Regions from separate parts of the Homo sapiens genome. Here regions 2 and 3 are each reported to be linked to region 1. The links are microRNA targets in miRTarBase. Many come from high-throughput screens and were not tested one by one. Region 1 holds a microRNA gene; each other region holds the end of a gene's coding sequence.
The links. Region 1 holds the annotated microRNA hsa-miR-3650 (AGGUGUGUCUGUAGAGUCC, at 2,145-2,163, shown strand). A microRNA usually pairs through its seed, bases 2 to 8, with sites in the 3' UTR of a target mRNA and lowers its output. Matches are read on the target gene's strand: a 7mer-m8 pairs with bases 2 to 8, a 7mer-A1 pairs with bases 2 to 7 and ends in A, and an 8mer does both.

Region 2: the mRNA of KRR1 is a reported target of hsa-miR-3650. Seed matches in the 3' UTR shown: 7mer-A1 at 2,245-2,251.
Region 3: miRTarBase lists DIPK1C as a target of hsa-miR-3650. The part of its 3' UTR that is shown has no 7-base or 8-base seed match.

What each region holds. Positions count from the first base shown.
Region 1 is chr5:38,556,703-38,559,702 of GRCh38, reverse strand. MIR3650 (microRNA 3650) reads left to right here and starts at 2,142; the gene lies at 2,142-2,201. It overlaps LIFR-AS1 (LIFR antisense RNA 1), which reads right to left and starts at 2,917. Exons shown (of 9, transcript NR_103554.1): 1 at 526-2,917. It also overlaps a transcript of LIFR not described here. RefSeq lists enhancers at 2,671-2,780, 2,133-2,916.
Region 2 is chr12:75,496,985-75,500,341 of GRCh38, reverse strand. KRR1 (KRR1 small subunit processome component) reads left to right here. Exons shown (of 10, transcript NM_007043.7): 10 at 391-3,357. The coding sequence ends at 533. GLIPR1 (GLI pathogenesis related 1) reads right to left here. Exons shown (of 6, transcript NM_006851.3): 5 at 1,622-1,648; 6 at 1-1,518. The coding sequence ends at 1,364. Among named protein-coding and RNA genes, the nearest start is that of GLIPR1-AS1, 8.8 kb to the right of the region's middle.
Region 3 is chr18:74,433,645-74,437,001 of GRCh38, forward strand. DIPK1C (divergent protein kinase domain 1C) reads right to left here. Exons shown (of 4, transcript NM_001044369.3): 4 at 1,131-3,075. The coding sequence ends at 2,857. Among named protein-coding and RNA genes, the nearest start is that of DIPK1C, 22 kb to the right of the region's middle.

The DNA.
Region 1 (3,000 bases):
TACTTCAGTTTTGTGACTTACTCTGTTTCATTATTTTATTTATTCAACAAACACTTATGGAGATAAGGCTCGTTGTATTATGCAATATAAGCATCAAACAAAGTACGTTCTTGTTCTGATACTTATTTTGCAACACTTCATGAAATTGCAAAAAGTAAATATTATATAAATTAGAATTTACAACACAGACTGGTCTATGACAAAGTAAGTAAAAATAGTCTCAATCCATGAGACTTGAAATTGAGCTGAAATTCCTTCAGGAGTCCATATGGATTAATTCAGATTTTTATACAACAGATAAGAAAAATTTATTCTTGACAGCACAGACAGCAGTCAGGTGCCCCAAGCTGGGTTATGGCCTGGTCAAATATTGCTAACATATTTTTAAAGCTCTTGCTTTGTTACAGAAACTCCGTTTTTCCTCACGAAACAGTGCGTATACCGCAACTCTTCAAATTGTACCTCAGTATGGTGTAAGGAATGTGGTGTTCCTTAGAAGCTGTGGCAAATCCCTAAATTTCTTACCTGTAAAATGGGTATACATGGAAGGCAGGTCTTCTGTGAAGCTCACACAGCATAAACTTTCGGGCATCTTCTCTAGGCCTCCATCCCAGGCCTTGGCAGGAGCCTTGGCGATACATTCACCTGGTCATATGTTTATGTACAATTTGCAAAAGCAATATATTGTCACCACAATTAGCTGAGACTGAGGTCTCTTTCCACTAGGACTTTCCCTCTGCCATTTTCCCTTCTATTGGGTGGTGCTAGGGCAGCCTGGACATGCTGTGGGATAGGGTCAGGCTTTGTGTTCCTACCCAAACCTCATCTTGAATTGTAATCCTCACTTGTTAGGGAGAGAAATGACTTGATTATGGGGACAGTTTTCCCGTGTTGTTCTCGTGATAGTAACTGAATTCTCACGCGATCTGACGGTTTTGTGTTTGGCAAGTTCCTCCGCTCACAATTCTTTCCGCTTCCTTGTGAAGAAGGTACTTGCTTCTCCTTCCACCACGATTGTTAAGTTTCCTGAGGTCTCCCCAGCCATGTGGAACTGTGAGTCAATTAAACCTCTTTCCTTTATAAATTACCCAGTCTCGCGCAGTTCTTTATAGCAGTGTGAGAACGGACTAATACACAGTATTTGCTTTTTCTTTAAGAGGACCACCCAAATTGCATAAATTGCAGGCCCCACAAAACCTGCATTACCCCCTAAGTGTGAGAATAGTACCTATTTCACAGGTGTGCTGTGAGGATTAAGAGGTAATGGACACATGGTGTGTATCAGGTGGATGTTAGCCATTATCACTACTCTGAATCTCCATCTTTCTATTATAGCAAGGCCACAGAAATGAGCATTTTATGTAATATTCTTAAAACTAAATTCTTCTCATGGAATGGGATTTTTCAACCCCAGGCAACAGGGCCACATCATGTTTTTCTTGGGCTCTAGGCCTTTTTGCCTTCGTTGAGCCCCTTACTCCATTAAAATATATATACATATACACACACACATATATACATACATTTTAAGATTGTATTAGCACAAAAACAAATATATTAATATATATTAAAATACTTTCTTAAACCTAAATTTTTTTTCCTTCTGATTTGAAAAGAAATTAAAATATTTTTTGTGGGCCTCTAAAAATATTGTGGACCTTAGGCACTGTGCCTAATGGAAAAGACAGTGACAGGATTGTGCAATATGAATAATGATAAATTTCCCAAACCATCAAGGACTCAAGAATAAGGGTAAACATCTTAAATGGGGTTGGTTTCGAGTACTTATAATAGAAAAATGTTATCCAAACAAGGTCTTAGGGGTAACAGGAGGCGTTTTTAGTGTTCAAAATACGCACATGGATGGAGTTGGCCATTAGGACGCTAATAGCGACCGTATCTAGCTGTGAAATACATATTTTTGTTTTGGGAGTCTACTTTTCAGTAAATGTCCTTTCAGGTGTTTTGTTGCCCATTTAATTACATGATCAACAAGGAAGAGTTATTTTACAAAACAAGCTTCATTTTGCCAATTTATAAATTGCTTTGGAGTTTCATCGAAAGGTCTTTAAAAAACACGTTGGCCTTGGTGCTGGTGCATCACATAAATCACAGATGAAACAAACAAGCCTGTTTCCTACTCAAGGTGTGTCTGTAGAGTCCTGACTGCGTGCCAGGGGCTCTGTCTGGCACATTTCTGAACTTTGCAAAATTAATTGTGCCGAAGAGAACACCATCAAACGCGTCCGGCATACAGCGTAAACATCTTCAGACCGTGATTCTGCGCCATCAAACGCTCTCCAGCTAATTTCATTTGGTGATTACTCTGCTAGAAAACCGAGGCCAAGTGAAACTGCGGAAATGGGAACAATGTACGGAGGAAAAATCTCACCCCATTAAGAGATCCGTTTCTTCTCCGCACAAATAAGCCCACCCCGCCTCCGAGGCAAGACTAGATGGCTCCAGGATACTCTCGGCGCGCCCGCTGGCCATCTCGGGCAGGGGAGCCCCACACCCGGCAGGAGGACCAGGACGCGAGCGGCGGCGCCTCGGCCCTGGGCTGTTTAGGTAATTCGCAAAGTCCCAACAATCATCCCCCTCTCCCAGAAGCTGGTTTTCTTGTGTGCAGTGGTTACAGAGGCGGCGAAAACACGGTTCCCCGCTTTCCTCTCCTCAAGGCACTGTTTGCAGCGGCAGCAGCGGCCGCATTCGGGGAGGCGCGGTCCTCCCCGCAGAGCCGTCGCGCACTCGGCCTTTCTCGAGGATTTGCCTGGGCTCGGCCGCCTCGCTCTCCCCTGCGCTTCCATGACCTTCTGAGAGCGGCCTCACCACCGGAGGCTCGGAGGAAGCACCACCCTCGGCGTCCGGGGCCCGTCGCGCGGCCGCGTTCCTCCGACTCCTTGGAGCACCCGCGCGCGCGGGCGCGCGGCCGGGGATCGGCGGGGGCGCGCGGGTTGGGGCGGGGCCGGGGCCGGGGGCAGGGGCGGGTCAGGGGCGGGG
Region 2 (3,357 bases), not on the chromosome of region 1:
GTGCAAGATGGAAAATAATGACTCAGAAGTTCCAAAATATGGAAAAGAATGTAGGTAAAATAATTTAGTCTGAAGTAGGATTTAAGGAAATAGTCTTAATATAGTTGAATCCAGTAATTGGTTCAATTATGCCATTTATGCCATTTTTATGTATACTTGTACTAATATATAAAGTATTTTATGATTTGTTTTATCTTAATCTGAAGAAATTTCTAACTGCTTTAGGCAAGTGTTTTTATATTTTATACTGTGATCACCTTTCAATTATTCAATTATAAGAATACTCTGAAGTTAACTGCCTTAAACATATATTCTTTGTTAAACATATATTCTTTGTTTTACTTGGTAAAATCTAAAGTATTACATGTGTTGTGCTTTTAATTTGTCTAGCTTCTACTGAAACTAAAATTGATGTGGCCAGCATCAAGGAAAAGGTTAAGAAAGCAAAGAATAAGAAACTGGGAGCTCTTACAGCTGAAGAAATTGCACTTAAGATGGAGGCAGATGAAAAGAAAAAGAAGAAAAAAAAGTAACATACCCAAAACTCCTTGACTAGAACTATCTCCTTTTGTAAAGGATTTTGAGATATCAGGCATTAGTTGCCTTATTTGTGAGAAATTTTCTGAGGGCTTTTTTTTTTTTTGGTGGTGGTGGTTGTTCATAGAAGAGTGTTCTTTATAAATTATATTATTATTGTATTTTTTGAAAAATTTATACGAGAAAGTGGTATATAAGTCTTTGTATACATTACGACCATTGTGATTATCCATTAAATCCAGTGTCTGATGCTATTGGTTAGTAATGATGTCCCAGCATTTGATGTTCCCTCTCTAATGATAACAAGTAAATATTTAGGTTTATCCCTTTTGAAAGTTTGGTTTTACTTTTAACAGTCCATGAACAGAAAATTAAGGCCTCTAAAATCAGATCCCCTAGTTACTCCTCTGTTCTGAATCTGGGGAAGTAGTAAACCAAAAAGACAGGGAAAACCAGATATTTAGAGTCGAAGCAGCATGCAAAAAATAATAATGTTTTTAACTAATGAAGGCTACTGGAGTTACTAAGAATCACCTAAAAATGTGCTACTGTACCTTGCTCATTTTGCAGATTTAGAAGCTGAAACATGGGTTAGGTTACTTACTAAAAGTCCACCTGTGGCAACCTGCAAATAATGCTTATTTATACTAAAGATGAGTTTATCTGATAGAGTTAGGAAATTTCTTCTTTTGAGTAAGAGTATTGCTATAACATATATTTTTTTCTGAAATGTTTTAAAATAGAAGTACACCTAATTGTTATTGGTTAAAAAAAAAGCCATATGTGAATGAGGTTGGTTTTTGGGTTTTTTCTTTCCTGAATTGTATTAGTCCAAAAGAACTAAATTAGGGTACTTGTGCTGTACCAAAATGGTAATTATAACAGACAGTATTAGAATTACTGAATTAACAATGAGAAAGAGAGAAGTGTATCTGTTACGTGGATATATGGGCCAGCCTGGATATACAACAGAGTAGTAACCTGTGAAACAAACATAGAATATCCTCTTAGACATTGTTCCTCATAATGCACTGACAGAATTCACATAGCTCTTAATGAAACAATTTAAGATTGATGTACGTACGTTTGACTTGGTCTCGCTGTCGGTTAACTGTAAAGTTAGGGGGAAGAAAGAAAAAAAATTAAAAGGGTAGACACAGTTGAGAGTTTTATTTTAAAAAGCTAAGTCTTATAATTATGACCATTAACTTGCTTTGGCTTTATTGCAGTGACTTTCCAAGTTTAATTATTCAAAACTTTTTGAACTGACTGAATTAACTTGGTATTTTTAAGTTGACTTTTTACATAAACTTTATAAACCTTTTATAAAAAGGAAACTATACCATTACTATAAATGGAAAATCATTTTACACATCATACCTAGCAGGTAATAAAATTTAAAAAATAAAAATTAAATATTAGAATGTGAGAAATTTATTAAAATATAGTTCTAAAAATAAGTTTCTTCCTGAGAAGAATGATACTGTTTATGATGAATCCATAGTGAAAAGACAGTGACCTCTCTTTCATCCAGTCTAGTATATCACTAAATCATCATTACGATGTTTGGCTATCAAGTCATTAATTACTGTCCTCCTTTCACTGAGCTTTATTCAAATTTTGACAATCAGAGCACTGGGAAGAAATAAATTCCACAACTGCCTTTAGCCTTCTGGATACTTTCTTTTATAAAATAGAAACCTTTTCCACACCAGTTCTGCAGCAGTCGCTATTAGATGCTCGTGGTAGAACCCATCAATCATCTGGTCCTCTGGGTACTGGTGAGCATCCCTGGTCTTCATACCTGTGAGTGGGCTTTGTGGTGAATTACTGTAAATATGCTACCCTCACTTTTCTTGGCAGTTATGTCGATGAAATCAAGAGTGTGATGTTCTAGTTATTTTTTTTTATATATATTTTTAAATGTTCAATATTCAACTATTGAAACAAATGTACATCTGTGAACTAGCTAAAATCATCTTATGTACCACTAATATGCCCAGCACATTTTGTAAAACAGTCCTGATTTGGCCTCCAAGGGTATTTATTGAACTACCAGCAGTATCTAGGAGACCACGAAGGAATACCACGAAGGAATTTATGCTCCAGTGCTTGCCATAATTTGTCTGAGAAGGAATCTGTTAAATAAAAGCTTTTATCCTCTAACCTTTACCTTCATCAGACCTTATAAAAGGTCAAATGGTGATTCTTAAGTTTTTTAGTCACAAATCTTACTTATTCAGTATTAGTGCGAAGAGTAGAATACTTTCAAGTAAGCCTAAACTTACATGAAAACAAATTACATAAATCTAGCTCTGAGAATAGGAAATTAGTGACAAGATCAATCTGTAAGATGTTGAGCACTTATCTGAAGTAAATGGGTAATGAGTTTCACATCTTATAAATACAAGTTAGCATGTGTTTTCTCAAGAGTCCAAGGGTTTTCATTATTGGACTACAGCTTTAATCTTCTAAATGTTATTCCCCAAGATTAAAGAGCATCTCAAGTTAGATCACCAAAGATCAAAAGCTAAAACCAGAAGTATTTTTGTCATTGTGGTGGTGGTAGTGTTACTAATTGCCTAGATTTTTAAAGGGAAACATTTTTTTCACTGGGTTGTTTCGTTGAAAAAAATAGAAGCAGAAACTTGCCCAAAGTCACAGTGGTCAAACTGGAAATTGCACCAAAACTTGGCATACTGGTTCTGAAATCCATAGTTTTAGCCCTTATGTATACTGGTTAATTTGGAAGGAAGAAATATATACGTTCTGAAGTGAAGAGTGAGTGAAAGGAAGAATTCAGTGAATACATTGATACCT
Region 3 (3,357 bases), not on the chromosome of region 1:
GCCAACTGACTCATTGACCAGTCTAGGTATCCACGAACTTGTCTCCTGAGCCACCTACGATTTCTATACAACCCACGTGTATTAAGGTTTGTCAGCTGTAAGCCAATGGAGTATACAATTATGGAATTCTTTCTTTTCATCAAATGAAGTTTTAACTACAATTTGTCAAGGTAAACTGTGGCAATGGAATCCTGATGAAGGACTGGACATGAATAAAGCACCATTTGCTTTAATTTGGATACAACTTAAAGAGGAATAGCCTGAGCTTGATGAGTTTACTTTATAATCTTTTTCAGATCCCATCAACATGTCTCTGAGAGTGTTCTGTCTACTATGTGTTATTACAACAAAACATAGAAATCATTTAGGGAGACATTTTCCTCTACGAGTGCGGTTGTTGCTCAATTAGATCAGCCAGAAAAAAACCGATTTGTCATATTCAAAATACTAAATATTGATATACACAGTGTTAATTTATTATGTTATATAAAAGCATTGATTTGCAAGGTTTCAAAATTAAAAACAAAACTGAGCTTCACCACAATTTGAGAGCCACTGCTCTAATGGGAATTCCCAGGCAGGGATGGAAAAGGGTGTGTGTGTGTGTGTGTGTGTGTGTAACTGTGTAGCCAAACATAAAGGGAAGAGATAAAACAGCTCCCTTTCAGCAATAAAACCACAATTGTGTTGGATAATTATATATTGCACAGTCTCCATCGTAAACAAAAACAATTTGTTTCCATTTTGGTTGAAATGAAAACTAACTATTTCTCTTTTCCAGGCTGGCTTTGCTGCCTGGTCAGTGAGCTCAGGCCACTAATGAATGGCTGGCATCCCAGCGTCTACCCACAAAAGACCCACTCTGACCTCCCAGAGCGAAACCCCACTGTTTAAAGGGCACAGAGGGCAAAGCCCTGGTGGCTTCCCTCCTTCCCCCCCTCCATCTCACACCCGTCTTCCTGTAAACCTTTTTGCTTGTAGAGAACCTGCCTAGAAGGTGAGCATGGCCCAAAGTATGCCCCGACCACCACAGAAAGGCATTGCACCCAGCGCAGCTCTGGGGAAAATCGGAGCCTCCACCCAATAGCCCGAAGCCCGCCCTTTCCTTTGGAATCCACTAGTCCTAGGCCTGGCCGTTGAACTTTGGTTTTAATTTGCTCGTGCCACAGGGTGACTGACATGGGTTTTTTCCTTCTTGCTAGAATACAATTGCAAAGCGAGTCTTCATGTCCATGATGAGGAGGCCCTCTATGGAACTCTGTGTCATTTGGAAGATCCCCAGTGGTGATGGGTAAGAATAACAGCTGGCAGTGGGCCTTCCAACAGGTCTTTGGGGAAGGCAGAATTTAGAGCTGGGGGCCTCTGATCATGCTAGTCCCTCACACACCATTTCTCAGCGTGCCCTGAAGGGCAGAGTCAGTAAATGTGACCCCAAAGTCTGGAAGAAGGCATTCCCGTTTCTCTGGTTTAGAAAGGGGCTGCAGGCCAAGATAAGAGACCATTTGGAATGTGTCAGTTTGTGACTTTCACAACGTCCGATTAATTTGTCTTCTTTAATGTGTAAACTGCCAACATGACTTCCTGATTCTCTCATCTTTCTCGATTTCCCTTTTCATGGGATTTCTGAAAAGGGGTGACCCGTTGGTTTGTTGAGCACTCGTGGGTCACAGTTATGGGTAGAAACCAGGTCCCTTTAAGTGAAAGCTCACTGGCTTCACCTGGCCTGTCCCCCTGCCTGTATTTTGCTGGAAAAGCCTCCTTGGGATCACCACTGATGAGCGTATCATGCCACCATAGGATTTGATGCCTATCACTTGGTCTTCAATCCATCAAAAGAAAGGTGCTGGTCTCTGGTCCTGCCTGGAGTCAATGCAGACCTCAGCATTTGCTCTACTTTAAATTTTCTCTGAAGGTGAAGACAATGCTGCATCAAGCCAACCTACAAGTCCCTGCCCAGGGGAAGGTGTATTGCAATACGAGGCGCCCTAAAACCCATCCATAACCTTGGTGGATTCCACAAAATGAAAAATACTATAAGCTGCCGTTACACACGCTCTCCAATGCAAATTCCCTTCCCTAAAGATGCAGCTTATTTTCTTTTTATTGTATTTAATTCCGAAAGAATGGTCACACTTCTTTGCTAGGTAGGCAAGATGTTCCGGAGGACACACTAGAGAAAGCACCACTCCCCACCCTAACCCACATCCCCAACACACTCACCTGCCCACACTCACACAATCACATACACATGCCCACACTTATATACACATGCTGACACCCGTGCACTCATGTGCACACACTCATTCACACTCATACATATTCACACTCAGGCATACTCATACTCCTCATGAGCACACCACACTCACCTGTGCACACTCACCTGTGCACACTCACACACATGCAGACACTCATGGGCACACTCACACATGCTCACATGCTCATTTGCACCCAGACACAGGCATACACATCATTTGTATGCACACACGCACACTTTTTAACGTGGTAACGATTTACAGGAAAGAACAGCTGGAACTCGTGCTGGGATAACCAGGTACAAGTGCTCTCTGCAGAGAATAAGTGCACACAGGTTGGTGTCTTCTGACCGAGAGCCCTCCTGAAGGGAGGTCTGTACCTCCTCCCTCATCTCATTTTACACAAGGCGACAGGTCAGAGGCCAGGGTGGGACGAGAGCGAGGGAGCACTGTCTCTGGCAGCAGCACTTGCCACTCCACAATGTGGAGACCAGAACGGCACCCCAGAGAGCACAGGGGAAATGGCTCATCTTTAAAACAATGGCAGAAGAAATCCAGCCAAGGTCACTTTTCCTGTGTGAGCATGTTTAAGGCCAGAGAGTGGCTACTTCTCTGCCTCCTGCAGCTCCCTCAGTGTGGCTTGGAGGAGTTGGCGAAGCTTCCAGAACACGCTGGAGGCTGCTCTCCGGGTGTTCCCACTGGGGACCCCAGGGTCTGCACATTCCTGCACCGCCTCCTGTAACTGCAGCTGAAGCTGGAAAGAGACCGCAGAGCTCTTGAGAGGCGCGGAAAACCAATGGCGAAATATTTTGTCACAGATGACCTGAGGGAAAGAAGGGTGGACAGTTAATTTAGGGCAGCAAATCCTCCTAAAAGCTTCCCAAGCCCAGGATTGGTTCTGAAACAGATTTCAGCTTCTCTCCCACCCCCACCCCCGTCCTTCAGGGAGCACACTCCAGAGACCATCCGATTTGGAAACATGCCTTCACTTCTGCCCCTTAAACCCTTCAGCACCATGAACAAAAGACGCCTCCGAGAGGAGAAGCCAACATCTGTGTGAGGCAGAAACTTCCCTTTCCAGCCCCCTAGCAGATGGACAAAGTTC